Linked DNA regions of Homo sapiens: all the other regions are linked to region 2. The links come from fine-mapping of genetic effects on gene expression. A gene starts in region 2. Each other region holds a variant in brackets. All regions are shown on one strand. Distances are between the middles of the regions.

Evidence for each region. PIP is the estimated chance that this variant, and not a neighbour inherited with it, causes the effect.
Region 1: its variant is fine-mapped to the expression of TMX4 in whole blood (TOPMed, PIP above 0.99).
Region 3: its variant is fine-mapped to the expression of TMX4 in whole blood (TOPMed, PIP above 0.99).
Region 4: its variant is fine-mapped to the expression of TMX4 in whole blood (TOPMed, PIP above 0.99).

The regions. Positions count from the first base shown.
Region 1 is chr20:7,975,612-7,983,751 of GRCh38, reverse strand. It overlaps TMX4 (thioredoxin related transmembrane protein 4), which reads left to right. Exons shown (of 8, transcript NM_021156.4): 8 at 1,131-6,406. The coding sequence ends at 1,501. Among named protein-coding and RNA genes, the nearest start is that of HAO1, 39 kb to the right of the region's middle. The variant C/T (reference allele first, on the strand shown) is at 4,925.
Region 2 is chr20:8,015,811-8,023,950 of GRCh38, reverse strand. It overlaps TMX4 (thioredoxin related transmembrane protein 4), which reads left to right and starts at 4,190. Exons shown (of 8, transcript NM_021156.4): 1 at 4,190-4,513. The coding sequence starts at 4,338. TMX4-AS1 (TMX4 antisense RNA 1) reads right to left here and starts at 4,045. Exons shown (of 7, transcript NR_184034.1): 1 at 3,847-4,045; 2 at 2,690-3,560; 3 at 1,796-1,892; 4 at 1,502-1,570; 5 at 1,184-1,394; 6 at 499-680. RefSeq lists silencers at 4,190-4,429, 4,540-4,679.
Region 3 is chr20:7,876,071-7,884,210 of GRCh38, reverse strand. It overlaps HAO1 (hydroxyacid oxidase 1), which reads left to right. Exons shown (of 8, transcript NM_017545.3): 8 at 548-1,226. The coding sequence ends at 618. Among named protein-coding and RNA genes, the nearest start is that of HAO1, 60 kb to the left of the region's middle. The variant C/G (reference allele first, on the strand shown) is at 4,159.
Region 4 is chr20:7,992,006-8,000,145 of GRCh38, reverse strand. It overlaps TMX4 (thioredoxin related transmembrane protein 4), which reads left to right. Exons shown (of 8, transcript NM_021156.4): 4 at 286-414; 5 at 4,075-4,120. Among named protein-coding and RNA genes, the nearest start is that of TMX4, 24 kb to the left of the region's middle. The variant G/A (reference allele first, on the strand shown) is at 4,623.

The DNA.
Region 1 (8,140 bases), 40 kb after region 2:
TCTGTGATGTGCCTTTTTGTGCTCATATAGATAGTGGGTTTTCTCTGTGATTTACTAGGTGACCAAATAATCACTACCAAATTTCTTAAAATGTGTTTTCTAGGTAGATTTGAACAAAATTATTTTTCTCCCTTTCTTAAATTAGGAAATATTTCATTTTGGCAATTGCTTTTTCTTTTTAAGTATGTGCTCTTCATTAATCAGTGTCATATTTTCCTTTATTCTAACTAGAACTAGAAGGGAAGAAGGGAAACTCAATATATATTGCTTCTGCTGTGTGCTAGTAACTCTTCTAAGTCCTTTAAAAGCAGTCTTCCCAAATCCTTGCACTGCTCCACACTTCTTCTGGGGCCAGGTGCCTCTGGATTTGCATGTCTTTATTCCAGACTATTTTTGAGACTGCATAAAGATGTTCATGAGACTTTCTAATTGTTGAATTTTATGTGGGAGTTTAAATAAGCTCATGTTTCTTTTTAGTTCTTGAAGTTTTTGAGGCTTTGAGACTTCCATTGATAATTTGAAAATATGATTCTTAGATTTCTTAAAAGTAATAGAAACCCAATATCAAGGATTTTAGGAAAACAAATGAAAATTTATTAGCTCACATAACTGAAAAGCCCAGGGACATTCTAGCTTCAAGCACGGCCCAAGTGATGTTAGGTTTCTCTGTCTGTGTGGCTTATTCATAAGAGCTGTTGATAGTCCTTGCGCATTTTCTCTGTTTAAAAATCCCTGAAGAAAAAGAGGCTGTTTCTCCTGACTCTGGCCCAGAACCTCTGTGGAGTACTTTGAGTGGCTTAGCATGTCACATTTCTGAACCAATCACCATGACCAATAGGGTCACTGAGCTTTCTACAAGACACAAAATACCGAGCGTAAAGGACCCTTTGCCCTTGCTGCCCACATGCCCTGCTGAAGTCATTATGGTCCATGAAATCTCCAGAGACAGGTGGAGAAGCCCTAAATGGGGCTAGGATGCCAACCAGAGAATCTGTCCTATATGACCATAGTTTCAAGATAGAAAAAACTGTCACTTACCCTCTATTTTTATTTCACAGCTAAACACACTCAATTGATTACCGAATTACCATTGTTTATTCAGAGGATATTCCTCTTTCTTCCCTCCATAGAGCAGAATCGGAGATCAGAGGAGGCTCATAGAGCTGAACAGTTGCAGGATGCGGAGGAGGAAAAAGATGATTCAAATGAAGAAGAAAACAAAGACAGCCTTGTAGATGATGAAGAAGAGAAAGAAGATCTTGGCGATGAGGATGAAGCAGAGGAAGAAGAGGAGGAGGACAACTTGGCTGCTGGTGTGGATGAGGAGAGAAGTGAGGCCAATGATCAGGGGCCCCCAGGAGAGGACGGTGTGACCCGGGAGGAAGTAGAGCCTGAGGAGGCTGAAGAAGGCATCTCTGAGCAACCCTGCCCAGCTGACACAGAGGTGGTGGAAGACTCCTTGAGGCAGCGTAAAAGTCAGCATGCTGACAAGGGACTGTAGATTTAATGATGCGTTTTCAAGAATACACACCAAAACAATATGTCAGCTTCCCTTTGGCCTGCAGTTTGTACCAAATCCTTAATTTTTCCTGAATGAGCAAGCTTCTCTTAAAAGATGCTCTCTAGTCATTTGGTCTCATGGCAGTAAGCCTCATGTATACTAAGGAGAGTCTTCCAGGTGTGACAATCAGGATATAGAAAAACAAACGTAGTGTTGGGATCTGTTTGGAGACTGGGATGGGAACAAGTTCATTTACTTAGGGGTCAGAGAGTCTCGACCAGAGGAGGCCATTCCCAGTCCTAATCAGCACCTTCCAGAGACAAGGCTGCAGGCCCTGTGAAATGAAAGCCAAGCAGGAGCCTTGGCTCCTGAGCATCCCCAAAGTGTAACGTAGAAGCCTTGCATCCTTTTCTTGTGTAAAGTATTTATTTTTGTCAAATTGCAGGAAACATCAGGCACCACAGTGCATGAAAAATCTTTCACAGCTAGAAATTGAAAGGGCCTTGGGTATAGAGAGCAGCTCAGAAGTCATCCCAGCCCTCTGAATCTCCTGTGCTATGTTTTATTTCTTACCTTTAATTTTTCCAGCATTTCCACCATGGGCATTCAGGCTCTCCACACTCTTCACTATTATCTCTTGGTCAGAGGACTCCAATAACAGCCAGGTTTACATGAACTGTGTTTGTTCATTCTGACCTAAGGGGTTTAGATAATCAGTAACCATAACCCCTGAAGCTGTGACTGCCAAACATCTCAAATGAAATGTTGTGGCCATCAGAGACTCAAAAGGAAGTAAGGATTTTACAAGACAGATTAAAAAAAAATTGTTTTGTCCAAAATATAGTTGTTGTTGATTTTTTTTTAAGTTTTCTAAGCAATATTTTTCAAGCCAGAAGTCCTCTAAGTCTTGCCAGTACAAGGTAGTCTTGTGAAGAAAAGTTGAATACTGTTTTGTTTTCATCTCAAGGGGTTCCCTGGGTCTTGAACTACTTTAATAATAACTAAAAAACCACTTCTGATTTTCCTTCAGTGATGTGCTTTTGGTGAAAGAATTAATGAACTCCAGTACCTGAAAGTGAAAGATTTGATTTTGTTTCCATCTTCTGTAATCTTCCAAAGAATTATATCTTTGTAAATCTCTCAATACTCAATCTACTGTAAGTACCCAGGGAGGCTAATTTCCTTAAAAAAAAAAAATCTATCCATCTACTTCTCTCTTACCTGATTTATGTGTTAGAATAAATTCATGAAATTCGATTCCAAGCATACGAAAGATGCCTAAAGTTGATTCTATGCTCCTTAGATCCAGACAGAATAATGAGTACAGGTTTATGAAATTCTAAAAGTTTCTGTCGTCTTTAAAAAGGAACGTGCAGTATATTTCTATCTGGCTGTTTAGATAACCCTTTCCTTGTATTAATTGTGAGCACGGAGCTCACTGGTGGGGGAGGTTCTGAAACTCTCTGCCCTCCTGTGGTTGAATGAAGATGTTGCAAGACTTGCACAAAGGAGGTTATTCTTCTGACAGCATCAACTTTTAGAGATGGTTCTTTTTCATCTTTCCAATTCAGTTACTTGACAGTCTCCTTCCCCAGTATGCTGAAGTTTGTTAAGAGTCACCAGTAATTGTGCTTTTCAGACAGTAGTGCAGCTTCAAAATCGAGGCCATCACTGGGCTGATGGGCTGGGAGAACCTTGCCATGTGCCTGCCTGTTTCCTGCCCCCTTAGTCACTGCCCATTTCCTGCCCCCTTGGTCGCTGACACACCTTCACCCAAAGTGCCATGGTTCTGATGGTGGCAGTTCCATCTCCCTGACATCAGGAAGCTTTTCTCGATCAGAGCAGAGCGGGGCCTGCCTGCCCTCGTGTCACTGGATTTCTTTCTCTTATAATCAGCTGAAACAGAGTTCTCAAAGAACAGTAAACTCAGGTTCAGAGGTATTATGGAATAAGAATGGTTTCATAGTTTGGCTTTTCTATATAATTCCTCCCTCTCAAACTGAAATATTCATTTTTTTAGTGGAGTATTTGACTAGAGAGAAGGTAAGGCAGAAATACAGTCTACACTGGCTTTTAAAAATGTAAAGCCAATTTCCAACCGGACCCCAAATAGTACAGGTTGAACATTCCGTTCCAACAATCCAAAACCCCAAATGCTCCAAAATCTTAAACTTTGAGTTCCAGCATTCCGTCAGAAGTGGAAAATTTTACACCTGACCTCATTTGACAGGTGGCAGTTACAGTGCAATCAAAACTTTGTTCCATGCCCAAGATTATTAAAAATATTGGATAAAATTACCTTCAAGCTATGTTGTATAAGGTGTATATAAAACAAATGAATTTTGTGTTTAGACTTGGGTCTACTCCCAAGATACCTCATTATATATATACAAAAATCCCCAAATCCAAAAACATTTGAAACACTTCTGGTCCCACACATTTTGGATAAGGGATATTTGACCTATATCTAATTATATAATAAGAAAAATGTATTTTCTTTTTTTTTTTTTTTTGAGATGGAGTTTCACTCTTGTTGTCGCCCAGGCTGCAATGGCACAATCTTGGCTTACTACAACCTCCGCCTCCCTAGTTCAAGGGATTCTCCTGCCTCAGCCTCCCAGGTAGCTGGGATTACAGGCATGTGCCACCATGCCTGGCTAATTTTGTATTTTTAGTAGAGACGGGGTTTCGCCATGTTGGTCAGACTGGTCTTGAACTCCTGACCTCAGGTGATCCGCCCGCCTCAGCCTCCCAACGTGCTGGGATTACAGGTGTGAGCCACCGTACCTGGCAGAAAATGTACTTTCTTTCTCAGAAATACTTTTAAAAAAAATTGAAGGGTGAGGAGAAAAACATCTTGGAGAAGAGGACCCATTAAAACTTTAAATATCTGTGGGAACCATTTTTCCTGATTTTCCCTTTTTTAACATCATGGCAAAGATGGGTTTTTTTCCAACAAAATTTAATTTAATATCTTTCCACTTGAAGATTTTAGGTTTGTTTTCAATACTTAATGAATATAAAACTAAAGGAGAAAAGCCAACCTGAAATAATTTAAACTTTATATGAACATTTCGATAAGAGTTTGTGGATTTTTTCTGTAGATAATATATTTGATCCGGAACTCAAGTGCATGGAAACATGATTTTGATTTTTAAAATCTAAAAAAAAAAAAAATTAAAATCATGCTTCCCTCTATTGCAGTATCAGTTATTTAGTCACAGAATGGTATTTTATGTAAATTAAAATTAGGTGAATGCAATGCAGGTAACTGGTTTTGGAATGGGAATGTGCAGTGCTTTATGTTTGGGGAGTTGGAGCAGGGTATCTTTTCATCAATTAGAAGGAAAGTTTGAAACTTCTGATTACCTTTATGTTGGTTTCTCTTATTATTTGTCTCTTGCTAGATCTGCTAAACCAACC[C/T]AGCTTGCTCAGAGATCTCATATTGAAGCAACATACAGGCAATCCACATCTTTCTTTCCCTTTGAAGTATAGTCATTGGATGGGATGAGGGACAGGGCCTGTTGGGTTCACAGGGCCTTGCACTGCATGGGCACATACTTAAAAGCTCTTGTGCATGGAATCCCTGTCTGTTAGCCACAGGCCTCTTTAGCTCTATACATTCAAAATAACTACTGTAGTAGAAAATAGATAAGCTTCAGCTGAGTTGGCTTTTGATAGTGGAAAAAAAACAAAATTTGACTTTTTATGGCCAAAATTCCTTGTTGACAGCTGTGATGTTCTAATATGATTTGGGAATATGTCAGTCTACAGAACCTGCATCCTGTAAAAACACCTTTGGGGTAGACGATAAAAGTCATTTTTAAGGCAAATACTTACCATGTGACTTTTTATTACCAAATGCATCAGTAGTGGAGCTGGTATGTTGTTTCATAGGATGGAAACATTAGAAGTCCAGAGAAAAATAAATTTTAAAAAAAGGTGGAAAAGTTACGGCAAACCTGAGATTTCAGCATAAAATCTTTAGTATGAAGTGAGAGAAAGAAGAGGGAGGCTGGTTCTGTTGCTCGTATCAATAGGTTATCTGTGTCCCTCATCTTGGTGTTACAGTGTTATTTCTGTCAGTATTATGAATATGTGGTTGACCCATCCTGTCAAATGTACCAACATTTTCGAAAGAATTCATTCAAATCTCTTATGCCAACAGAAAAGTTCCTTCTTGTTTAATATCTCTTTACCTCAGTCCTACATTTTGATTCTCTGGAGGAGATTTTAGCTTGTCTTAAAAAGCCAAATTTGGAGTCATCAAGCCTGCTGAACCTGATGGGGCAGCTTTTTGAACAGCTTTCTGGAAGTAAGAACTTCAGTTGAAAAGCCCTTTGATCGCTTCAGCCCGGGACATGCCCTTCAGATGGCTTATTCTCAGTAAAGCTTTATGTAGACTGTGACACTGTATATGTGTGACTCGTACAACTTTGACGTGTTTCTGAAGTGGTTTAATCGTATTTGTTATTAGCTTCTTTGTGGAAATGCAATTTTTATACTAAAAACATTGCTTATTTGCAATGCAATATGTTATAAATTTGTTGTTTATATTACTGGTATTAGTCTTAGCCTAATGAACCTAATTATTTTTCTTTCTGTATTCTTTGCTTCCTCAAATAGCATCTGCAGCAATTGGAATGAGAAATCCAGATATGTGTTTCAAGTAGTACATTGCCTGAATCACAAATCACTTGATCACAGTATTGTATATAATCCCTGATCCTATTTGTTTCATTTTATTGTAAATTCCCATTTGCATCAAAACCTAATGATAGTGATTGGTAAGTAAAAACAAATGGTGTATTGCTTTTCATACAAGTGTTTTCACAAAAGCCATTTGCCTAGGCAGCAAAAAATATTAATTTGTTAAAAAAAATTTTCCTTCGTGTCCATCCTCCATCTAGTCTGTTCATTCATTCTCTCTCTTTCTCCCTTCCTGACTCGGTGAAACTCAGACCATGTGCCCTTTAGTTGCTCTGGAAAGTGCACAAAACCAAGGCAGGGTCCAAAGATCCAAGGCTCTTCCAGCCAGTGTGTTGCCATCAGAAACCTCTGGGGTCTCCCTCTGTCCTGAGGTCTTGGGGTAGCCAGATGGCAAGGGATGCTACTAATCCCCCAAGACACTGTGGATTGGTCTTGTCTTTGGGGCTTTCAGAAAACTCCCTTCTACACCTAACTCTCCCCACCACTATAGTGGAAAAGCATCAAGGTGGTAAGGTGGGTCCTTGAAACACCCTCAGAGACTGAAACAATGGAGATTGGATTTTTGTCTTTTGGAAGATGGTGGGGGATGTGTGTAGTGAGAAGACAGTTACTAAACCTGCATACCACCAAGGCCCTCCCTCAGAGATACTGGCTCAGAATGCTTATTTGCCTATACAGAGAAAAATGTCTGTCGTGCTGTCTGCCTAGATGACTTTGGTTATTCATCCTTGCCTATAGCAAAATGCAGCTTTCAAGCCAACAACACTGAATTACAAATTTAACCCCCTGCTTTGCTCTAGTCTTGAATGCTCTTTGGAACATATTTCACAGTAATAGAAATTCTTTCTTGGAACATGTGAGCTTCTTGAGATTGATAACTGTATTACGACAGTCCAGCCTGTGCTAACAGACCCGCAAATCTCGGGGGCTTTAAGAACAAGAATTGTATTACTGATTCACATAGCCCAGGCCAGGCATCCCAGGCAGGCTCTGTCCCATGCAGGTTTTTCTGGGCCTCAAGGTCAAGGGAGGCTTTGCTGTTTAACATGTGGCTGCTGGGCCGGGCATGGTGGCTCACGCCTGTAATCCCAGCACTTTGGGAGGCCGAGGGAGGTGGATCACCTGAGATCAAGAGTTTGAGACCAGCCTTAGTAACATGGCGAAACCCTGTCTCTACTAAAAATACAAAAATAAGCCAGGCGTAATGGCAGGTGCGTATAATCCCAGCTACTCAGGAGGCTGAGGCAGGAGAATTAATTGAACTCGGGAGGCAGAGATTACAGTGAGCCGAGATCATGCCTTTGCACTCCAGCCTTGGCAACAGTGCGAGACTCCATCTCAAAACAAACAACCAAAAAAACGTGGCTGCTAAGGTGGCTGTGATCATTTCCATCCCAGTCAGTCAGAGGAGTAAGAGATGGAGGAACATTGCTGAGAGATTTTAAAGCGAGGCTGCCACACGTGCATCATTTATGTTCACATTTCCTGTGAGAGGACTTAGTCACAGGGTCATACCTAACTTAAAGGAAGACTAGGATGTGTAATCTTGCTGTGTGCTTAAGAACAAAGGGAACTTGAGAGCTAGCAATCTCTTGCCACAGTGACTTTTTCTTGCCCACCTTTGTGAGCCTAGGACCTTCTATAGAGTAAGCTCCTGGGACATAGTATGAATGCACATATGGCAGGAGAGGGCAGAGTACATATGGCCCCAGTGCTGGAGGTCTTCCTGCTGGACTTGACCACTGTGGCTCTTCAAGGTACCAGAGTTTTCAAACTGAGAATTGTCATTTCATGGAGTTTGTATTTTACTTGGGAAGGTGAATATTAGCAGGAAAAGAGTTACAAGTGAAAAAGTTAACAAATGCTATATGAGTTTATAAAAAGGAACCTGACCTAGGTTGAGGGTGTAGATGGTATGTGTGACCAGGA
Region 2 (8,140 bases):
TGATAGTATGGCTGCAATTTATTTTGCTGCTTCTTATTAAAGGATAGTCTAATTCCTCTCCCCTTCAGTCTGGTGTGTCTTCAGTGCCTTGACTAATAGAATGAGGTAGAAACGACACTCTTAGACTTCTAGAGCAATGCAGTTTCCACCTTCTGGGAACTCTTGCTCTAGAGAAATTAAGTATGACAGCCCTCAAACTGCCATGCTGAAGGAAGCCGAAGCCAGCCACATGGAGAGACTGCGTGGATAAGAGCAATGCCTGTGCAGTCCCCAGCTGTTCCAGCCAGCCTACACTAAGTGCCAGATGTGGGTGCAAGGGACTTCAACTAATTCTGGCCTCGGCCTCCAGGGGTCTGCCACCATATAAAAGAGTACAAGCAAATATAGCCCAGCTGAGCTCTTGAACCCCCAAAACCATGAGAGGTGAGTTTTGGGATGGTTGATTAGGCAGAAATAGTTAACCTGAATAATCTCTCATAGTGAAAACGTATTTCTTACCTTTGTAAAGTCCTTTTAAGAATCCTGGGAACCACCCAATGCTGCTATTCTCCACCAGGCAGCTCAGCAATTCAGGCTGCTCTGGTCTTGTAGACTCTTAGATCATGATCTTTTCTCTAAAATTTCCACAGCAGGAGAACAGAACACTGGGACATTTTGTGCCGGTGATTAAATACTTCAGCCTGGAAATGATACATACCCACCCCTTCCATTTGTAGCCCATTGGCCAATTCATATAAATATGACTAACTTCTGAGGGGTGTAGGAGCATCCTCCTCTGTGGGGCAGGGAAAGAGAGGGGGACTAGATAGGATCTACCACACTCTTCTTCCCCTCTCTCCTGCTAATGATGTTACCTCATCAGAGGCCTAGGAATTCCTTTGCCTACTAGGAACCACATATTTTTGTGTAATCATAGCTGCCCTGCAGTGCCACCATCACTCTGGGGGAAAAAGCCTTTTCTCCTAGTACCAGGTACCAATCTTCTTAAACCTGTAAATCCACGTTTTAAACATAAACATGGATCACACACTGACCTAGCATAGCATTACAGCATAACAAATTGCCCCAAATCTTAGTGGCTTGATATTATGTAACAACATTGATTACCTCACAGTTTCCGTGGGTGGAGGTCCCAGCTAAGCTAAGCTTTGCCCCCTGGTTCTGGGTCATTTATAAGGCTCACCCGTCTCAAGAGCACTGGTGACAGATTTGCTTCTAGGTCACTCATGTGGTTGTTTGAAGATCCAGTTCTTTGAGGGCTGTTGGGCTGAGGTCTCAGTTGCTTAGGCTGCAGACCTCCCTTGTCACATGGAGCTCTCCACACAGAGTCGCAGAGTGAGTGTGCAAGAGGAAAAGAAGTTTCCAGCAAAATGGAAGTCTCAGGTTTTTGTAACCTTAACAAAGAAGTGATAATCCATCAGTTTTCCCATCTTCTGTTAGAAGTGGGTCACCAGGCCCAACCCACACTCAAGAGGAAAGGATCACACAAGGGCCTGAATACCAGGAGGGAGAGATCTTGGGAGGAGTGCCAGAAGCTGTCTATCCCAAGTACATCTATGGGATGGGTATTCTGCAATACAGGGGACACAAAGATATATAAGGTAAAGCCCTTGACCTTGAAGAGTTTTTAGTAGTGGTTGGAGGAGTGAGGGTAGAGGGTGATAGCTACATATAAATGCATTATACTATGAAAGGTATGTGGTGAAGTTATTGTATTAGTCCATTTTCACGCTGCTGATAAAGACATACCCGAGACGGGGTAATTTATACAGGAAAAAGTGTTTATTCAACTCACAGTTCCTCATGGCTGGGGAAGCCTCACAATCATGGTGGAAGGCACGGAGGAGTAAGTCATGTCTTACGCGGATGGCAGCAGGCCAAAAGAGAGACAGCTTGTGCAGGGAAATTACCATTTTTAAAACCATCAGATCTCATGAGACTTATTCACTATCACGAGAACAACATGGGAAAGACCCGCCCCCATGATTCAATTATCTCCCATGGGGTCCCTCCCACAACACGTGGGAATTAGGGGAGCTACAAAATGTGATTTGGATGGGGACACAGAGCCAAACCATATCAGTTATACAGAAGAGCAATTGGATCTGAGAAGAGACAGCAGCTCATTCTGCATGAGCTATCAGAGGTACAGTGTGGACTACATGACAGAGACTGAATGATTCACTGGACAACTGGAGAAGAGTGTTCTAATCAGAATGAAGGAGCAAGGAGACACTGAAGTACACAATGTGCTTTGGGAATGGGGAGTAGCTTTGTGTTACTAGGACACAGGGAACTCTGGGAATAGTGGAATGTAAAGTGGGCAAAACTGAAGCTGGGCTGTGAGAGGCATTGTGTATCATGCTAAGTGAAGTTAACTTTAGTATAAGAAAAATAGACATTACAGCGTATTGTTGCCTCCAAATAATAATATTAGTGTTGGCAATATTGTGGCAAAAACCACAATTATGTTTGCACCAACCTAATATGTAAGCTTTTTGAGTTAGAATATGTGCTAGGCATTATTCTTATCTCATATAATCTTCACAGCCACCTTTTGGAGCAGGTTCTATTACTACCCGCATTTTAAGAGAACTTTGGTGTGGACTAGTTTTAGCCCCAAATCACATGGCTAGGAAGTGTCAGGGCTAAGATGCCAATCATGGTCTGACAGCAACAGGTCCCTTACCCTGGTCTGTGACTCCTTACGGCAAGGTCAGTCCCATACTTCCTTGCTACTTTCTTCCTACCATCCTTAGTCTGAAGGCTAAGACTTCAGTTTTTGTTAAAGATAGGAAATGCTTTGGTAATGGCTGTCTTTCATGCTGAAGATGCTCTCTCTCCTTTTAGCTTTTCATTTTGTAAATTTTCCAACATATGCATGAGTAGGTAAAGTAGCAAAATGAACTTAGCTTCAACACTGACTGATGTTGCACCACTTTTCTTTCACCTATCTTCTTTCCATTCCCTACATTTTATTTCTGGAGCATTGTAAAACAAATTCTACACATCATTCTATCATGAAAGTGATAAAATGACAGAATTCCTGTTTATGAGTCACTTCTTTTTACAAGCACAGTAAAATGTTTTCCATTGAGTTTATGGAATTGATATGTATGTACTTAATAACAGTGAGTCTTAGTAGCATTCATTGCAAAGACATTTTCTTAAATTTCAATAGTTTGTAAACCCTTGAGTGTTTTATTTTAATGATAAGGGCTAGGTCCACATAGTTTTTAGCTAATACTAATTAATGCATAATGCAGGCCAGATCTTCTCTTCAGGCAAAATTAACTTCCCTCTCCTATAAGTATTGATTGAAATTTGCTCTCATGTGCCCTGAAGTACTTTTAGTCTTATTGCTGTCTTTGTTTTAAGCCGAGGGCAGAAACCACATCCTTTTCATGGTCTATTAACCACATTACCGAGGTTCATGGTTTGCACAACTAGTAAACACATACAAAGCACCCTTTGAGAAAGCTTCCTCATCCTTTAATTGTAATCCAGTCTTATATATTAACGGTGTGGTGGTCCCAAGGTACAGATTCATCTAATGTGACCTGGAAAGAAATTTGGAAATCACTTAAGGCTACCCTCATTTTAGATCTGACAAAACTGTAGTCAAGAGAAATGTGAGGTCCATTTTACTGCAGGTGGCAATAGTCTTAATTGACTCATTTTATCGGCTAGTACCCATGTTTTTAAGAGTTTCTATGAAATTAACATTTTTTGTAAAAAAAATGCAATTGCATAGGCTAGTTTCATCAATATCCTAAATTAGTGATGCTTCAATATACACATGCAGAGTACTTAAATTTTCCTCTCTCTTCAGCAGGAGATACTCACCACGTCCCTCCATTTTTCATTAAACATACGTGTACCTTGCAGCCCGTTGCTTTTATATTTGCTATCATTGAAGAGGGGATGGATTTTAAAATTACTGGCCATGTTTCCCTTTAGAGAAGCCCACACGCGCCAACCCTGCCCTTATTGGAGCCTGGGCAGCAGCGGTGCATGTTCTAACTTAGGCAACGTTGGGTCATCTGTTTATTGTCAGCTTGGCGGTCAGGAAGAAAGGGCGGTGGTTGCTGAGGTAACCGACACCCCGGGCAACGGCAAGTGGAGGCGGGAGGGGGCGTGGCCTCGACGGGCAAGCGGCGATAAGAGGTGGCGTCCTCCGCGGCATTGCGAGCACCGCCAGTCTGCGCCGCTAGGCGTAGGCGGGGTGGCCCTTGCGTCTCCCGCTTCCTTGAAAAACCCGGCGGGCGAGCGAGGCTGCGGGCCGGCCGCTGCCCTTCCCCACACTCCCCGCCGAGAAGCCTCGCTCGGCGCCCAACATGGCGGGTGGGCGCTGCGGCCCGCAGCTAACGGCGCTCCTGGCCGCCTGGATCGCGGCTGTGGCGGCGACGGCAGGCCCCGAGGAGGCCGCGCTGCCGCCGGAGCAGAGCCGGGTCCAGCCCATGACCGCCTCCAACTGGACGCTGGTGATGGAGGGCGAGTGGATGCTGAAATTGTGAGTGTGCCCGCCCGCCCCGGACGCCGCAGTGTCCTCGCGGGCGTCACCCTCCCAAGCCCGCGCGGCCCGGTGGCGATCCCGCATTGCCGCTTGGGCTCAACCTAAAACCCCGGACCAGGCTTGCCAACAACCTGCGGCGCCGGTGCCGGGCCGCTTGCGATCCTGCACTGCCGCTGGGCTCGACCTGGGGTCCGCGGACCCGCCTTACCAACGACCTGCGGCTGTGGGGCCCGGCCGCTCGCGCCGCGCATGCGCGCCGAGCCCTCGCGGTGACAGCCGAGGGTGCAGCGCGTCCCCTTGCTTTGGGGGACAGTGTTTTCGGGGTGGAGTGGGCAGCTTCCCATAGGGAGGAGAAGGGAAGGAAGAAAATCTGCAAGCAAACCGTGTGCTTTTAGATACAGATATGTATTGGAAGAGAAAGGACATTCAGTGACATCCACGTGCAGTATGAATACGTAGCACAGGCTAAGCAAGTTACCTGTTGAAGAAATTGCAGCACGGTGAAGGCAGGCCATTTGTGTCGTAGTCTTCCGTTTGAAGACCTGGAGATGTCATTGTGAGAATAAAACATAAATATGGATGCCTTTTAAATTTTACAGTATGATTTCAAATAAATGTTGATACTTATTATAACTTGTAAAGGTAGGACTTTCTGAGTAATATTAATAATTGTGCCATAAAGAAAAGAAGATACGCATTGCCCCTTTTAACAATAGAAAGCAAATGGTGGATAGTGCCTTTTCTTTAAGGAGATGGGAAACTACAGTTTTGAGTTAGGAGAAAGAAAGGGATTTGTTGATTATAGTTTAACCTTATAATAGGAAGTGACCATTTGAAAGAGGCTTGCAGTGGATGGTGGGCAGATGTCTGAGCGGGCTTGAGAGACCATCATGGTGGGCTTGCAGACTCTCTCTCTCTCTCTCTCTCTCTCTCTCTCTCTCTCTCTCTCTCTCCCCCTCCCTCCCTCCCTCCCTCCCTCCCTCCCCCTCTCTCTCTCTCTCCTCTCTCTCTTCTCTCTCTCTCTCTCTCCCTCCCTCCCTCCCTCTCTCTCTCTCTCCTCTCTCTCCTCTCTCTCTCTCTCTCTCCCTCCTCTCTCTCTCTCTCTCTCTCTGTCTCTCTCTCCCCTCCCACAACTCCTTTCCACCCTACCTGCCCCCCTCCCGCCCCCACCCCCCAAACATAAAATCTTTCAGGAAATTGCCACATCTCTTTAGCCTGTGGTTTCTGGCAATCTGTATACTACTATTGAATCTTTGTTTTACGTTGAGGACACAGACAGAAAATTGGATCTTTCCTTTATCCAAGACCAAGTTTTGATTCTTTCAATTTAAATTGCAAGCAGGTGCCTATGGAGTGAAAACCTCAGTGTGAGATCAGAGCCAAAATTTATGTCACACAGCAGATTACATTGCTCGAAGAACATAAGGCATATCACCCCTTCAAATGTGCATTTACCTCTTAGTCACAAAGAAGGGGATATTTTAGACCTCCAAATGAAATACCCTTGGTATCATAATAAATCAATGAAATTATTAAAGGGAACTGTAGACATGAATTATTAAAATATTCCACTTAACTATTTTTGGAAGAAGGTGAGGGGGTCATATTCTATTTGAGAAACTTTTAAAATAAGTGGAGCTGTGTTAAGACTTCCATGTTTGTAATAATTTTAAGAGTTTGGGATAAACTGCATTTTGTCAGCCAATACTACAGAAAGTTCTCTTTTCAGTAGGTGCTTACAAAATGGACTTTTTCCTAGATGTCATCTTTCAGGGTAAAACTGAGTTTGCATATGTATGTAAGAAAAGTTAAAACAGAAAGGCCTCCTCATTTTTAATGACTTCAACTCCTCTATGGTTCCTTTTGGAATTGCTTTTTTTTTGGTAATAGAATTAAGAACACTAAAGCCTCAATAAGTTTTTGAGGGAGAGCCAACAACATCTGTGCTTGGCCATGTTGATGGTTCAAATTTTACTTTTTTATGAATGTATAAACCTAAACATAGTAATCAATTGCTCTGAGTTTGTCATGTGTCCAGTTGTATGGAATATGCTTGGCCTGTGATGCCAGATGAGTCTTGTAATCTGGAAGTAAGCTGTGTAGACACAAGGTCATTTTAGTAGACATTCTCTTTTTATCGAGTGCACTTCAGAATAGGTGGCTAGGAAGCAAGGCTGTCAATGAAAATTGATCCAAACCATTCCATCCAACTTCTTTATACGCACTAAAACCCAAGTGCTCATCCTGAAGAAATATTTTGGTTCTTATCTATTTGTGATCTATTTTTTTCTGTATTATCAGGTGATACTCCTCCTCCTTGCTGTGAAAAAAACTCCAGTACTTAAAAAAATATAAAATTCATTATATCCTCCATACCACTAGAGGCCTGCTATGAATTTCTAAGAATTCATTTAAATAGCCTATACGTTACCAGATTTTTTTTTTTATGTATATAACAGAGAAAAACAAAATGCATTAAAATTAGCTTCATCTTGACACTTAGTTCAGATGAGCTGGTCATACATAAATGGAAATTGTTAGTAGTTCAAAGATGTTGTAGTTAACTTCTTTAAAGAAACAGATTGAGAAGCTTTTGTTGTAGTTAACTTCTTTAAAGACACAGATTGAGAAGCTTTCCGATATCAAAATGTATTCATTACTTTGAATGAGAGTTCTTTATTTGTTCATTTGCTTATATGCGCTCTTTCATCTGGGAATTTTTTCTTTTATACGCCACGTCATACAGATCCCCTCTAATGCAGTTTCTGGTTATATTGGTATAGATAATTTATTCTTAAGAATCTAGCAGTATTTGGCAGCCCTGAGACATGAAAAGCTTCTATTATGAAATTAAATTTGGTTATTTTTTCTTAGTCTTTCAAACAGTCAATTTTTTGGATTCTTGCAATTGAATTTCCAGTGTTTTAAAAATGTATGAGTTAAAAGTATATTTGCAGTAATTCACCGTTTCTATTCTGATGATTTTAGAAATCTGAAAAGTTCTCCCATTGCTACATACATTTTCTTTAATGCTATGGGCTTATTGTTGTTATTATTATTTTTTAGATGGAGTCTCACTTTGTCGCCCAGGCTGGAGCGCAGTGGTGCGATTTCAGCTCAGTGTACCCTCTGCCTCCCGGGCTCAAGCAATTCTCCTGCCTCAGCCTCCCAAGTAGCTGGGAATACAGGCACCCGGCTATGGGCTTATTGTATACTCGTTTGCCCTTTTTCTGAATTAGGAAAAATGATCTAATCTTTAAACTACTGTATGATGCATGCTTTTCTCTATTGCCATTGTTTTATACTATTCTTCATTCAGTTCCTTTGCAACCTTTTGCTACTTTCAACATTTGCTTGGCTCTCATTATGTCAGTCCTGGAGAAAATGACTTTTGTTCTTTTGAAACATGGAAGTATGTAATATGATACATTCTGGTGGCTTTTTCCCCCAGAAGAAATAGATAGCCAAGTGGCTTAATTTTGACATTCAAGCTGATACTCAGAAGAAAAGTATGTCTTTGGGTTAGTTTACCTCTGTAAAGCATATAAATCTTTATAAATTATTGCCTTTTCTTATTTTTGTTTTTGGAATGATCATGTTTCAAAATTTAAATTAAACACCTGG
Region 3 (8,140 bases), 140 kb after region 2:
TAAATACACATTAAAATACTACTAGTGACTATTTCTAATTTGACTCAGAAAGAACCTGTAGCTAGAAAGAATGGCTGTGAGTTGATTATCAGCTACCGCATTTTTGAAGGTAAAGAGGGCTTCCTTTTCTGTAATCCATATCATCTGGATTGTTCCCATAGATAAAACTCCCCAGATAAATGGTCTACTCACTACTGTACTCAGTCTGCAGACAGAGCCTCAACAAGAAGAATGCCATTCTGTGAATCCTCACTATGCATTTTAATTTGCTACAGACATATCCTAAAAGAGAGCTTTCAGTCACTGACTCTCTATTAAATGTGGCAGAAAGAATATACTCTTTGTGTTAATAAAAATATGTGCCAGTCATTTTGTGTTAAGGACTGTTTAGGTAATAAAAAATGGTCTCATGCCACATAAGATTTGGCAAGCCTACCTTGAATCATAAACCTTACATTTGTCAAATTTTACATTCCTTGGGAAAACGATTACCTGCCTGATTATTATTGCATTCAGTTCATATTAAATGTATGCATTATTTTTTCAGGGTGCCAGAATGTGAAAGTCATCGACAAGACATTGGTGAGGAAAAATCCTTTGGCCGTTTCCAAGATCTGACAGTGCACAATATTTTCCCATCTGTATTATTTTTTTTCAGCATGTATTACTTGACAAAGAGACACTGTGCAGAGGGTGACCACAGTCTGTAATTCCCCACTTCAATACAAAGGGTGTCGTTCTTTTCCAACAAAATAGCAATCCCTTTTATTTCATTGCTTTTGACTTTTCAATGGGTGTCCTAGGAACCTTTTAGAAAGAAATGGACTTTCATCCTGGAAATATATTAACTGTTAAAAAGAAAACATTGAAAATGTGTTTAGACAACGTCATCCCCTGGCAGGCTAAAGTGCTGTATCCTTTAGTAAAATTGGAGGTAGCAAACACTAAGGTGAAAAGATAATGATCTCATTGTTTATTAACCTGTATTCTGTTTACATGTCTTTAAAACAGTGGTTCTTAAATTGTAAGCTCAGGTTCAAAGTGTTGGTAATGCCTGATTCACAACTTTGAGAAGGTAGCACTGGAGAGAATTGGAATGGGTGGCGGTAATTGGTGATACTTCTTTGAATGTAGATTTCCAATCACATCTTTAGTGTCTGAATATATCCAAATGTTTTAGGATGTATGTTACTTCTTAGAGAGAAATAAAGCATTTTTGGGAAGAATATATCTAGTCCTTTTGTAACAATATGAAATTTTAATTTTATTTTCTGAACCTTAATTACCTCCTCGTTTCCTTTCTGCATACCTTATTGGTTATCCTATACCTCCTACTTCTCTTTCTTTACTCTTTTGATTCTTTACCATTGATAACCATGTGCAAGGGTAGCTACATAATGTGTGAGGACTATGCCAAATTAAAATATGGGCCCCTTGTTCAAAAAGCAAGACAAAACCCTTTTCCTTCCTTCCACAGTTTTTCTCTTAAGCTGTCATGGAGACTTGCTGTTTCATGTCATGCTTCCTTGGGCATGGGGATACCCACATGGCAAGCGTAGAGCCTTCCAGGTGCCTGGGGTATTGCCTTACAACTTGCCTTGATCTTACCTGTGCCCATGCCCAGAACCCTGCTGGGGGTGCAGGGCAAAAATACTAAGCAGAATGCCTGAGCCAGCAACCAAGAACTCACTTAGCAGACATGGGGAGGTGGCAGGAGATGGAACAATGTATGATGCTAGGCTCTCAGTGTCCCCGGCACAAGTTCCATTGTTGCATCGTGCATCACTTATAAAACAAATTCAATGATAACATTATTAAGTATTTCAAGCCAATAACCACAGAGCATCAAACCCTAAGCCCAAGTCCCCTTTCTGAGCATGGAGCCCTGTCCACTGCATGAGGAGCATGCCCATGAAGCCCTGATCACGTGACTTTTATATTCATTCCCAAACCAAGCATTTTACAAATTGGAGGTGAACTAGGTAGCCAAAGTAATTTTGAAGTTGATTTTTCGTCATCTCTCTGGTTGTTCAACCACTGTGAGGTACTTAATGAAACAATTCAGAGAATCACTACCTGAAAATATGATTATTATATTATGTTTTATTATTATTATGCTTTATTATTCCCAGAACTCTTTCTCTCTCCCTTTCTCCTTCTAAATGCTAGGAGATTCCTAAATATTAGCATGAACACACAAAAAACTTTTTTCTGAAATTATATACCAGTCTGGTAAAAAATAATCACTTAACTTTATGAAAAAGAAAAGTTATCCCTTAACTTTTTCTCAAAATACGCAGAGTAAATATTTCTATCATATCATATAATTGTTTTATGCTTTTCCAATTAATATTGATCAATGAATAAGTATATAGTAAGCACCTCTAATTCCCTCAACAGATTCAAAATGCCTTCTCTGTTGGCACAGAATTTCCATTTTGACTACATCACAGTGTGTGGTTGTGTGGGCGCTTGCTTAAAAGTTGATAACTTCCCAGAAAATAGAGATCTCCAAGTGGTGTTTTATGTAAGGTTTATGCAAGTAACAGTGAGAATGGGGATTACTGGTCTTAATTCGTGAGTTTCTCATAATTTTTAAGATTCCCTGAGCCACAATAACTCCTTGAATGTAGATTTTCATTTATTTTTTCAGAGTTGGAATATATCTGAATGCTTTTTGTTTGATAATTTTTTCATAATCAAAGATATACAGCTGTTTGCTTTTACTTTTTTTTAATGAGTGATATGGACCCAATTGTAACAGTACTGAAATCAAAAGTGTGTAATGGTTAAAAGAGGAATGGTGTGTGTTAGTTGTACAATCCCTTCCAAGAGTTTTGAAACTTAGGCTTGATAGACAGATTTCTTTGAGGAAGCCAACAAACGCCTCTCTTCCTAAGTTTCTTGAAATATGTTGGCGGGAGGGGTAACAGGGCTTCATTACGGCCGCCTCTGCCTTTTGTGTATGTTATTTTGTGGATATAGTGCTCTAGAGCAGTTTCTCAAGCTTTGATAGTGCATCAGAATCAATGGCAGGGCTCGCTGAAACAGATTGCTGGGCCCCACACCATGGATTCTGTTGCAGCCATCTATGTGAGCCAGCTATTGGGTGTGGGCTCCAGGCAGAGAGGCCAAGCCTCACCTTAAAAGGCCAGCTGTTCCTTAGCCAATTGATACCTTTTCCATTGAATTGTATTTCTTATTGACATATGAAATTCATACAGCGAGGTGTGTAAGGTGCTGAAACCTGAGTGTATCGGTGGCTACACTTTACATTTACACCTATATGCCTACCTCCCAGATAAAAATACAGAACATTTTCATCATCTCCAAACATACTCCTTCTACCAGAGATAAACCTATGCCGATTTCCATTGCCATTGATTGGTTTTCACTGGCCTTACACTTCACATAAGTGGGACCATACAGTGTGCACTTTTGTGTTTAGTTTCTTTTGCTTAACATATGTGAAGTCCATTCATGTTTTTGAGTGTATCAGAAGTTAGTTCTGATTATTGCTCTGTAGTAATCCATTGTAGGAATGTACCACAATTTATCTATCTCTTATCCTATTGGGTTTTTTTCCAGTTTTCTGCTGGAAGTTGATTCTAAATGATTTTTGCAAAAATGCAAATTCAGTGTTATTTTATAATTTTTCAAGAAATGCAAGACATTCAGATTTTTATGTAAAAAATTTTAAATATTGGACGATATTTAACATTTTGAACACTGAGCAGGTCATGTTAAACATGGATGTGGCCCACAAGCCACAAGTCTGAACCCTAAAACATTTTATCCTCACAGATGTTTTCCTCATGGCTGAAATCACTCTTATGCCCTGATACAGAATAATGCCTGAGACCTGTAGCAGTGATGGGTGCCTGCCAACAGAAATTGCCAGAATCTCCTTTGTTTAAGCTTATTTATATTCAGCTACCTGGAAGAATGTGGGTGTGAAACAAACCTTCTTCTCTTTACGAGGCTTGGGGAGCCCAGGTTCCCAGGCCTGTAGGAATGAATTGAATAGTATTGATGCCTCTTAGCGTGATGTTTGCAGACTGCATTTGGGTCATTGCTGTGTTATTCATTTGCTTGTTTATCTTGCCAAAACATTGGCGTTTGTGAAACAGCTTTAGAGGGCTGTGGTGGATTAGGAAA[C/G]CATGAAAGGAAGTTGTGGCTTGTTCTCAAACAGAGAGAAAAGACTTTTCTCTTCATTGTAAAATTCATAACTTATTTACTGTCTGATGGACTATGTTCCATGTCAGTTGCATAGCAACAAAATAAAGTTTGTCCGTTTAGGAAAGTCCGAAGATTTCTTTTAACATAAAGACAGGATGCTTTCCGAACTTATATTTGCCTCAGCGTGCATTCTGTCACATGCCAATTATAGAACAACATCAGGATGACAGTTTATTTTAGGTAATGTAAATGTTAGCTCAAATGATAGGAGGCTATTATTATATGTTTATGTGATGGGAAATCTCATCTATTCTAAAAGATGCAATTTCCTGTTCTTACCCAAATCAAACTTGAGCAATAGGTGTCTTCTTTCCTCCCTAATGTACTTGCCCATTGTTGGAGGAAAGAAAAAGATACTTTTTTATTTTTAAATCCAGTTATCTGTTTGCTTTTCCACTGACATTTTTCTGATCTTAGATAATGAGTATAAGTTCTATTGAAAGTTTTCCAGGACCTTCTAAAAATTAAGAATTGTGTTACCCTGAATGATGCCAAAAGAAGAGCTGGAATTCAAGTGAGTGATAGGCTTGATTTTGTTTGTTCCTTTGATTCAGCATCACAGGGGAAAAGAACCTTGCTTGGTTTCCTATGTATCTTTTCTGGTTAGATCATCTGTCTTTAACGCTGATTTATTTTCCATTACAGTCAACATCCTGAGTCTGTTTCTAACAGTGGAATCTTCATATTGATAGAGTCTTTCATGGTAAGATTCTTTACATGGTATGTTCGAGCTTTCTTACTAAACTTAATGAAGATCAAGACTAACCTGCTCAAAAGCACTGAGTTAGAATCCTGAAGATCTGAATGATTAGCTGGGTGAACTGTTATGTAATCTGAGGACCCTCAGATGCTCAGCTGAGAAATGAGGGCGGCAGCATCTGTCTACCTCTCTGGGTCATTATGAACACAGCATGGTGAAATAGGTGAGAATTTATCATGAACTGTAAATCAACAGTCAAAGGAAAATATTATTTTATATTAATAGTTTAATAATGATTATTATCAGGAAAGAGAATAAAAGACATTCTAATAAGTATTTTATTTTATAGTATTTATTTAGAGAAAAGTTGAATATTTTACAGAGTAAAATAAACATCACCACAGATTTTACCACAGAGAGATAAATGTTATTTATATTGGGTGAATATCATCTCAGACTTTGCTGTGTTTGAATAATCAGTAGCAACTGGATAGATAGAAGTGGTTTTGAAGCCACCTTTGCAAAAATTATAACAATGAGAAAATTATGACAGTGAAAAAGACCTGATCTAATCAACTTCCATCTTACCTTTGACCTCTGAACTCTCCATGGTCATTCCTGGGCTTGGGCCAAGCTAACATTGGGAGATATTTAGTTTATAGTTTAAATAATAACAGCCCTTCTTAAAAACTAAACAGCCCTTGTAAAGCTAAGGAGGATGAGAGGAGCCTAAATTCTGTTAAGATGTAGGCCTAAAGGATGATCAGCCTTTATTCCAGGGGTCACAAAATTTGGAACTTCCCCAATTACTCCTGCAGATAACATCACCATTGTGTACCCTAAGATTGGCCTTTTGAGATGTCTTTTCAGTCTTTGGCATTTCTGAGGACTGGGCGGCCCCACACTGATCCATGACTCTTGACGCAGCTGGTCCTGTGGCCCCCACCCAGAAGCAGACTCAGTGCGCAAGGACCATTTTCCAAACTCCTATGATTACATCCTTAGCCAGTCAGCATTACCCATTCCCTAGCCAGCCAAACTACCTTTGAAAAATCCTCACCTTTGGATTTTCAAGGAAGTTGATTTGAGTAATAATAAAGCTCTGGTCTCCTGTTTAGATGGCTCTACATGTATTAAACTCTTTCTGTATTGCCAATTTGTGGCTTGAAAATTTGGCTCTATCTGTGCAGTGGGCAAAATGAACCTGTTGGATGGTTACAGCTTTACTAAAATAGGACTATACAATACATGTTATATTTGAGTAAGAGATTCAATTTATTTTTACTTGAATTTGTAGAAGGAAAAGTAAAGTTGGAAACATTTAAAATTAAGGTAATTTTTTTTCAAAAAGATATATCGTAGATTAAAAGTGCCTACACAATGTATTTGGAAAATTATGAAAACTTAAAAGATTAAAGTAATTTTTGATTTATGGCATACACTTTCTTTAATTTTAGCACCAGTTAACTCATTGCTATAAAAAATGAAGTAGTCTCTTACATCTACTCTCCTTTTTTCCTCTTCTCTTCCCCTTTAGTGTGTGTACATATATATATATATGGATATAAAAGGATATATGTATATATCCTTTTTTTGAGATGAAGTCTCACTCTGTCATCCAGGCTGGAGTACAGTGGTGTGATCTTGGCTCACTGTAACTTCTGCCTCCTGAGTTCATGTGATTCTCCTGCCTCAGCCTCCTGAGTAGCTGGGATTGCACTCATGTGCCACCACATCTGGCTAATTTTTGTATTTTTAGTAGAGATGGGGTTTTACCATGTTGGCCAGGCTGGTCTTGAACTCCTAACTTCAGGTGATCCCCCCCCACCTCGGCCTCCTAAAGTGCTGAGATTACAGGCATAAGCCACTGCACCCGCTTTTTAGGGCCAGGCGCAGTGGCTCACGCCTGTAATCCTAGCACTTTGGGAGGCTGAGGCGGGTGGATCACGAGGTCAGAAGATCGAGATCATCCTGACTAACACAGTGAAACTCCGTCTCTACTAAAAATACAAAAAATTAACTGGGCGTTGTGGCAGGCGCCTGTAGTCCTAGCTACTGCGGAGGCTGAGGCAGGAGAATGGCATGAACCCGGGAGGCGGAGCTTGCAGTGAGCAGAGATCACACCACTGCACTCCAGCCTGGGTGACAGAGCCAGACTCCATCTCAAAAAAAAAAAAAAAAATATATATATATATATATATGTATGTATATATATAATTTTTAAATTATCAAAGTATAAATCATTGTCTTCTCTATCATTGATTTCCAAAATTGTTTAATACTGGTTTTCATTTAAATGGGCTCGGTACTTATAATTGTCATAGCTTCTCCATTCTCTGGTTCTTACCTTTGATTCACCTCCTGGTTCCCTAGATTTCACTGGCCAACTGTAATTTCAAAAATAGCTGGTATTCTTTAAGTTTGTGCATGTTTAAAAATCTACTTGATGTTCTTGTATTTGAATGACACCATGGATAGGTATACTACTTTGGGGTCACATTTTCTGTTTGTAGACATTTTGGATTGCTTTCTGGCATTGAATTTTATGTGAAGAAATAAAAACTGGCTTACTCTTTTGCTCGTGATGTTTTAACATAATCTCCCCACATCCACTTTCCAAACCCAATGTCTAAAAAATTATTTCTTTGTCTTTGAATTTCAATGACTTAAGCTAAGTTAAAGCTAAATGTCACATGGCTTACAATTGTGAAGCACAGCTATGCCTAACCCACTGTATTTTATTTTAAATTTGAATATACAAAAAACAACCAGCATAAGTCTCATATCAATTATTAACATATATTCTTACAACATTGTTCTCTACTTTTCTATGTGATCCTTACCAAACACATTATAATGACATTAATAGCAATGGTTATTATATTATAAATTATTGAACATTTTTTCTTTGACAACAAACTTCCTTAGAGGTTTTTGTTATCCAGACCAGTGCTATCTGGTGAATGTGCTGTGATGATGAAAATGTTACCCGCACTTCCAATATAGTAGCCATCAGCCACATGTGGCTATTGGGTGCTTGAAATGTGTCTAGTTTCAATGCTTCATTTTATTTAATTTTAATTAATTTAAATTTAAGTAGTCATATGTGCCTAGTGGGTGTGTATTGAATAGCACAGATCTAGATGTTATGAATAAAATTGAGCACTGGGGAAACGTAATCTAATAGACTCAAGACTAGTT
Region 4 (8,140 bases), 24 kb after region 2:
AATAATAAAAAGTAACTTGGCATATTAAACACTGCCAAGAACTCTGCTTTTAGTCACACTTTGTACGGTGATAACATAGAATGTTAACGCTTTTAGGTTTGAATTTCTCACTTATAGTAAAGCTTATTAACTCTTTCTGATTTATCTCTATGTATATTTTTCAATTGAGTCAATTTAAAGTTCAGATGGCGTTCAGATGTATCACCAGTAGCTATTTTAATTTTTATTATCTGTAACATCGTTATTTTAATGCATTTGCTTTCTACTTGTTTTCATAATTTATAGTGCAAAGGATGGGATATTCCGCCGTTATCGTGGCCCAGGAATCTTCGAAGACCTGCAGAATTATATCTTAGAGAAGAAATGGCAATCAGTCGAGCCTCTGACTGGCTGGAAATCCCCGGCTTCTCTAACGTAACTCAATTTTTTAAGACAAGGTGTTACTAATAAAACAGGAGGTTTTAAGTTAATAGCCTGTGGGTCTCAAAAAAGCCTATGTTTTACTTCACATTTACTTCCAATTACCCAGATTACTCATGGCCATGCTTAGCCCATGCAGTATTTCTGATTTTGTGACCTACATATGTTTCAGCTGGTTTTTAGTATACTGGGAATTAAGTAGCCAGATTTGAGTGGGTTACAGAACGCCTCTTTTCCAGCTTTTACACTAAGCCACAATGACTATTTTTCTCTTTACAAAATATGGTATTGAACATCATTTACCATTCTTTCTTCCTTTTAAGTTATTGATGAGACAGAGGAATAACTGTTTATTGAATTATAGTTTATGAAGGAATTGCTATTATATATTATGTGGAAAACAAAACCTGTGGAGTCTTTGGCTGCCTCGCAAAATACCACAGGGGATAGCTTTGGCCTTGACGGCAAACTGTATAATACTTGGTGAGGTAGATTAGGCCAAACCATAACAGCTTTTTCCACAGTTGGTTTTAGTTTTGAATGGATTGTCATATATATAGATAATTTTATGTTAGTATATACAAGTGTAAGAAATTTCCCTACTGAAAAAGGAGCAAATCAAGCAATATTTCAGGAGTAAATCATCTAGTGGCATCTATATTAATATTAAGGAAACACATAGCTTACTCTAAAAACAACTCTCACATTTCATTCTACAACCATTTGAGCACTGATTTAGCCAGATACTTTCCTAGGTGCTAGGTATTCAACACTGAACAAGACAGACATTCACCTCAGGTACAGAGAATCATAGTTGGGATGAGGGTGGATAAAAAACACAACAACATATTTTACAAAGATGGGATAGCTCTGGGGTTATGGACCTGCTCTTCTAGATGGAGGGAGTAGGAGACATTTCTCTGAAGGGACGCCTCTAGGTGAGATCTGAATGATAGAAGGAACTAGCTTAGGCAAAGAGCAGAGGGAAGATTATTCCCAGGAATGGGTATGGCATATGCATAAGCCCCAGTTTGGAAAGGAGCTTGGTGTACTTAAGGAGCAGAATGGTGACCAGGGTCAAGCATAGTGAAAGGGAATGTAGGATGAGCTGAGTAAGAGGGGCAGGCTGAAGCCAGGTCATGCAGGGCCTGTGGCCACAGGAAAGAAGTTGGAAGTGATCAGCACACACAAGGAGAAGGTGACCCTTAGGAGAGGAGATTGGAGAGGGCAAGAATGGATGAAGTGAGTTGAGGCTTAGAGTGGTAGCTTGTGTCAGGTGGCAGCAGTGGGGATGTGGGGATGGAGAGGCTGAGTGGATTTTAAATATGTTATGAAGGTAGGCTTGGCCAAGGTGAAGGAGAAGAAGGATTCATTAATAAAAACTTACAAGTTTCTGGTTTGAGTACATGATGGATCTTGGTACTTGTTATTGCCTTGGGCAAGAGAAAATTAAGGATTCTGTATAAATCTTGTTGGGTTTGAGATGCAGACTTTGTAGAACTGTCACAGTGGATGCTGTATTAGTCCATTCTTGCATTGCTATAAAGGAATACTTGAGACTGGGTAATTTATAAAGAAAAGATGTTTAATTGGCTCATGGTTCTACAGGCTGTACAGGAAGGATGATGCTGGCATCTGCTTGGCTTCTGGGGAGGCTTCAGGAAACTTATAATCATGGTGGAAGGCGAAGGGGAAGCACATAACATCACATGGCCAGAGTAGGAGCAAGAGAGAAGGATGGAGGTGCCACACACTGTTAAACAACCAAATCTCCTGAGAGATCACTCATTATCAAGAGAATAGCACCAAGTGGATGGTGCTAAACTATTCATGAGAATCCGCCCCCATGATCCACTCTCTTTCCACCAGACCCCACCTCCAGCATTAGGGATTACAATTTGTTAGGAATAATGCTTACAATTTTAAGAAATTGAACACTTGAACAAAGGATATTTAGCAAAGCAATTTTATTTTTGCGCAGAGAGGTGCCTTTTTGGCCAGTCGCCATGAGAGCACACTTGAACAAAGGAGTACGAGAGCCTTTATTTTTGACGCAAGTCTTGCCCCTGTATCCTTTTTTTATTGGCTGGGGTCAGGTGTATAAACTAATTTTAGTTGGCTAAACATTTGAATTTTTTTAGATAAGGTGGGCACATAGAAGAAAGAGGAAAGGGGAAAGGGTGTCTGTAGTGAGTCAGAAAGTTGTTTTTTTTTTTTTAAATAAGGAAAGGAATGTGAGTTGGTACTGATAATGGCTGGTATTGTGGCATGCCTGCGCATTTAACAAAGGCAGAAAGGAAAAAGGAAAAAAAGAGGGGGTGGTTAACTCTGAATTAAAAGATTGATTAGGCTATTTGAAGGGAAACCTTATCATATCTCACAAATTGAACATACGATTTGGGTGGGGATACAGATTCAAAGCATATCAGATGCATGGAAATGGGTCCCCATGAAGAATTCAGGAACACAAAAAAACCTACAGACAATGTTGAGGTGAGGGGAACACCTAGAAAGAAGGAAAAAGAGAAGAGTACTTGGGGATGAGTCATGGGCCACCCCCAAATTAAGAAACTGTGTTGAGAAGTCAGCCAAAGGAAACTGAAAATGAGTACCAGAGAGGCAACATGAAAACCAAGGTCTGCCATTTTCCAGAAGCCAAATGAGTGTTCAAGAAGAAGGGCGTAGTCTCTTGTATCCCATGTTACTAAGAGGCGAAGGGAGATCAGGTCTGAGACATGGACATTGAATGAAACATGGTGAGGTCATCATGGCCTTGACAATCTGTTCCTGTAGTGGTGAGGGTGGAAGCCAGATTTTAATCGATTAAAGGTACAGTAGAGAAGAAACAGCATGTGTAGAGTAATCTGGAGAAATTTATCTGTGAAGCTGGAGGGTCATGTGAGGTCCAGGGATACTCTTTTTAAAGGGTAAAAGAGAGTAGAGCATGTTCATATGCCAGTGAGACTGTTCTAGGAGAGAGAGAGAAGTTGCTCGTGCAGGAAGGGAGGATGAGAGAAAGAACCAAGTCCTAATAAGACAAAATGGATAGGATCCAAGGCACAAGTGGAGGAATTGGACTGTGATAAGAGAGTTAGACTTTTCCTGTCATAACAAGAGAAGGTGGATGCAGGTGGACACCAGGCTCAGATTTGGTAGTGGGAAGATGAGAGAAAGCACATGGTGGCTTCTGATTTCACAGTGACATATGAGGAGTGCTTGTTAGCTGAGTACATGGGGATGGGAAGATGTGTACGTTTTGAAGAGAAGGAAAAGGAAATGAGCTATTTTCTTAGAGCTTAGAAAGTGCTGGACAGTATTACGTGTCCACTTAGGTTTGGGACTATGAAGCAGAAAGAACTGTCATCTGGTTATGTGATGTTTTTTCCCTGGAGACATTCAGCTGCTCAGTGTTGAGATTTTTGCCGGGTAGGCACAATGAAAGGAGAAAGGGCCAAGGAGTTGGAATAGATTTACAGCAGAGTGATTCAAATGATAGCCACTGAATCTAAGCTCTGTAAGAACAGATATGAATCTGGGAGAGGGGGCAATATTTAGCAAGAAGTGGAGGGAAATAGACCAGTCCTCCTGACCTGATTTTCATTTTTTTTTTATAGTATATATGATCACTGTTTCTTCTCTTTATTTTTTTTTAAGGATGTCTGGAATGGCTGGTCTTTTTAGCATCTCTGGCAAGATATGGGTAAGTAATCTTAAATAAAACGTTTATATTTGCAGAGAGGTTAAGAATAAAAATACAGCTTTTAAGCAATAGGAAAACAAACATTTATAAGTACATTTATAATTTCACTTTTTTTCTTAAGCCATGCAACTACTCTCATGTGGGGTTTCCAGTGGTAATGTCGTCATGTAGAAGGGCATAATCTGAACAGTAACCTGTAACTACTGTGTCGAGGTCTTATTTTCTTAAATCAGTGGTGAAGTCTTTCATCCAAGCAAAACGGCTTATGTGATTTTACTTTATCTTATGTATTTCTTTGTAGGCATATCTCCCTACAAAGGAAAGATTGTCTAAGACTGAAAGTAGTTCTGTATGTCAGGGATTAACAAACTCTAGCCTGTGGATGGGCTACCTGTTTTTGTAAATAAAATTTTACTGGAAGACAGCTACATTTATTCATTACCTATTGTCTATGACTGCTTTCATGCTACAATGGTACAGTTGAATAGTTGTGACAGACACA[G/A]AGAATTGTGGTTCACAAGCCTGTAATATTTACAATCTGGCCTTTAAGTAGTAGACCCCTGCTATATGTGATCGTATAATTTCTCTGAGTCATTTCAGTGGGTTAGAACTGTTATTCAGGTTTAATTTTTGAACCATTATATAATGTTGAGTATGTCCCATAACCTTTTATTTCCCTTCTCTGTAGGGGAGGACTAAATCCAACCAGATTGAACAAAATGGCTCTGGAATTAAATATAGCTCAAAATATTTCAAAAAGTCTTAGAAGCGAGTCTCCCTATATATGTCTTTTCTATGCTATGATTGTAGGTTATGGTGTCATGTTTGGAACATAATATTCAAAGAGTTTGTGAAGACTCTTTTTCTGTTTCTCATACACATTCATATATGTTGAAAGACATTTAAGAAAAACCTTTTGTATTCCACTTTCTCAGTTCCATTTATATTCTGCCTTGTGAGATAGAATACCTACCACAAGGTTTTTTGGTTGTTTATTTTTTACAACAGAGGCGAATTGAAGACTTGGTTTCAGTCTTTCAGGTTAAAATTTAACTTTTTTTGGCATTTGTCTCACAATAAACAATAACTAATATTTCCCCCTCTCCAGATAGTTTGAATTTCATGTGGTTTCCTTCTGCTGCTTTCTTAACATTGGTGAGAACTTTAATCAAGGGCTAAGAATTATGAATTGCAAACTGGGAATTGAAAAGAGATTCTGCCTTTTGCAGTATGTTGATATTAAAGACTGACAAAATCATGTAGCCTGATGGCTGTTTGAGCCGTGTAGCATTATACTGTCTAATTCAACAGAAAAATTGGAGTAGATGGTTGTCAGGCAGCATTGACTGTGAAATTTTAGCACCAAACCTATGATAAGTGCAATAGAATTTGTTCTGCAGGTTAAGAAGAGCTTAGATGGAAGCTGATTATGGCCTTCATTGACTGTAAAAGAGAAGTTTTACTTTCAAAGACGATAGCAGGGAAGATACATAATGGCCCTGACCTCATATAGCTTGTAATTTGGAGCTTAGACAAACAAGTTTAAATAAGGAGTTACAGTTTTTCATTATGTCATGCAGATGATTACAATGTGTAACATTTAGAGTGTGTCAAGGCCAGGAGTGGGTGTTTTATCTTTGTACACACAGTGCCCAGCTATGGGCAACACAGATGTATTCTGTGTGGATGCATTAAACTGGAGAGAAAGAGCCGTTTGGAGAACAGAATGTGATCCATGTCTGAATAACTAATGAATATGTTTTTCTTAATGATTGAGAAGTAGAATATATATGTTATATAAATGTATATTTATAATTTCCAGATATTTCCAAAAGGAACCAAAAATGATCATTTTATAAGATAAACTAAAATTTGGCACACAAGTAATTACATTTTATAATTGTAAAATGTAGAATGCAAAATGTACAATTATATAAATGTATAATTGTAAAATAGTTTTATCTAGTATTAATACCATGTGTTTTCTTTTTTATAAGCATTTGCATGGAGTAATTTTTCTATTTTCAACCTTTTGATTATGTTTTAAATAAATCTTATAAAAAGTATATAGCAAGATATAATTCTTTTAACTGATGAATTTAATCCATTTATATTTATTGGGATCACTAAAACATTTGTCCTGATTGTAGGGTGTGTGTATGTAGGGGAATGGAAGAGAGTTGCACATAAAAGAACGCAAATGATACAGTGTTATTTTGATCTCCGTGTGTGTGTGTGTGTGTGCATTACCTTAATAATTTGTGAAATCTGATACTGCCCTCCATATCAGCATGTAGCCTCCCCAAGCCTCTTGCCAACTTTTGTGATTTATTCTTAGAAATAAGTCCCCATCCTTTCATCAGATCTGTAGGTAGGTCTCTTGCCACCTGTGTTTCTAGAATGTGGCCCTTGTCCTCTGATTTATAAGGCACACCATCTCTGACCTAAAGAGACCCAGTCCTTGGCTACCCATCAGGTCTCTGGTCCCCACTCCCACCTTTAGTTATGGTCTTGCCTTCCTGTCTTTATAGAGCCACTTACTCAGCGAGTCCTTCCAGCTGACTGCCCTGCCTGCTCAGTTAGCTCATTTAGCTGACTCTTCCTTTAGTCAGAGTTCCTCAAATCCATGTTGAATGTATAATTGTGGCAAACGTATTTGTTTTTTAACTCATGTCTAGATCATATGAAACTACAATGCAAATATATTAATAATGAACAGAAGAAACAACTGTACATGGTGAGACAGAAATAGACTAGGGATGGAAGGTGGAACCAAAAAAGTGTAAAGTCTCAGAGAAAGAAGATTATAAAGATGGAAGAAGGAAAGACGTAGAATGGCTAATGCCAGTGAGACAAGATTGTTTATGCCTATCCATAGTCTCTTTATCTTACTGAAATATCTGGATACATGTACAGATAGAAATCAGTCTTTCCTCAGCAACAGTCTTCCCTGGATGGGTAGCTGGTTAGATGTAAGTATATCTGCAGGGAAGATGACAAAACAGTATAATGGATGTTTATATGGCGTTTTTGTGTGTATATAGGAAAATGCTTAGAGATCAACAGTAGTTTTCTCTGATATGGGTGATTTTTAAAAACGTTTTTTCTATAACTTCTATTTTCTTCTGTAATGAAAAAATGAAAACAATATATTTAGATCAGAGCCTATTGAGCTAGTAATTATCTAGAAGATATCTAGAAGATCAGAGATATATCTAGAAGATCAGCGCCTACTGAATTAGTGATTCCTTAAGGGGCTTGGGTTTCTTTCTGCCTTAGAAGTGAAGCCAACTTGCTAGGTTGCACATTCTGGAGATAAAAGCTGGTCCTCAAGATTCTAGGATCACCTGGTGATGAGACACTCACATGGCCGAATTCCTATCAACTCAGGAGTTGGTTTGGTTTGCATTTGGCCTTCTTAACTTCATACCAACCTCCCCTATGTTCTTGCTTGAGTAAACTGTTGAGGTGAGAAAGTCCCTTGAATAGTCTTATGAGGCAGTTCCTGTCAGCTTCCTGCTGTTACCCTGAATCCCAGGGATCCTCGATATGTCATTCATACCACAATATGGACAAGAGTAGATGATCTCCAGTGTTCTTTCCATCACTAAATTTAAATTTTCTTTCCAATTCACTCATGATGGCGCTCACCTGCATATTTTAATTTTTATATAAACTCACAGAAGTAATTACCTCATTAGCTGTTAATATCTATCCTCACAAATAGTCTCAACATTTTACCCATCTCACAGATGGAGTCACTGAGGCCTAGGAGATGGGACAGTTAGAGGAGTTTCTCAGAGAGTTGACATCTTCAAAGGACAAAATTGATTTTGATTTTATATTATAGTAGCAATATCCAATTTCTTTAAAATTGTATGCAACTTAGTGACTAAATGAAAAATGTTAATACTCTAATGGATAGTACAAGGTGAGGTGAATATCATAAAAGCAATGTGCAGAAGATTGAACTTCAGGAAGCATCACTGCCAAGTCTGGTGGCATAGTTAGGATTAGAAG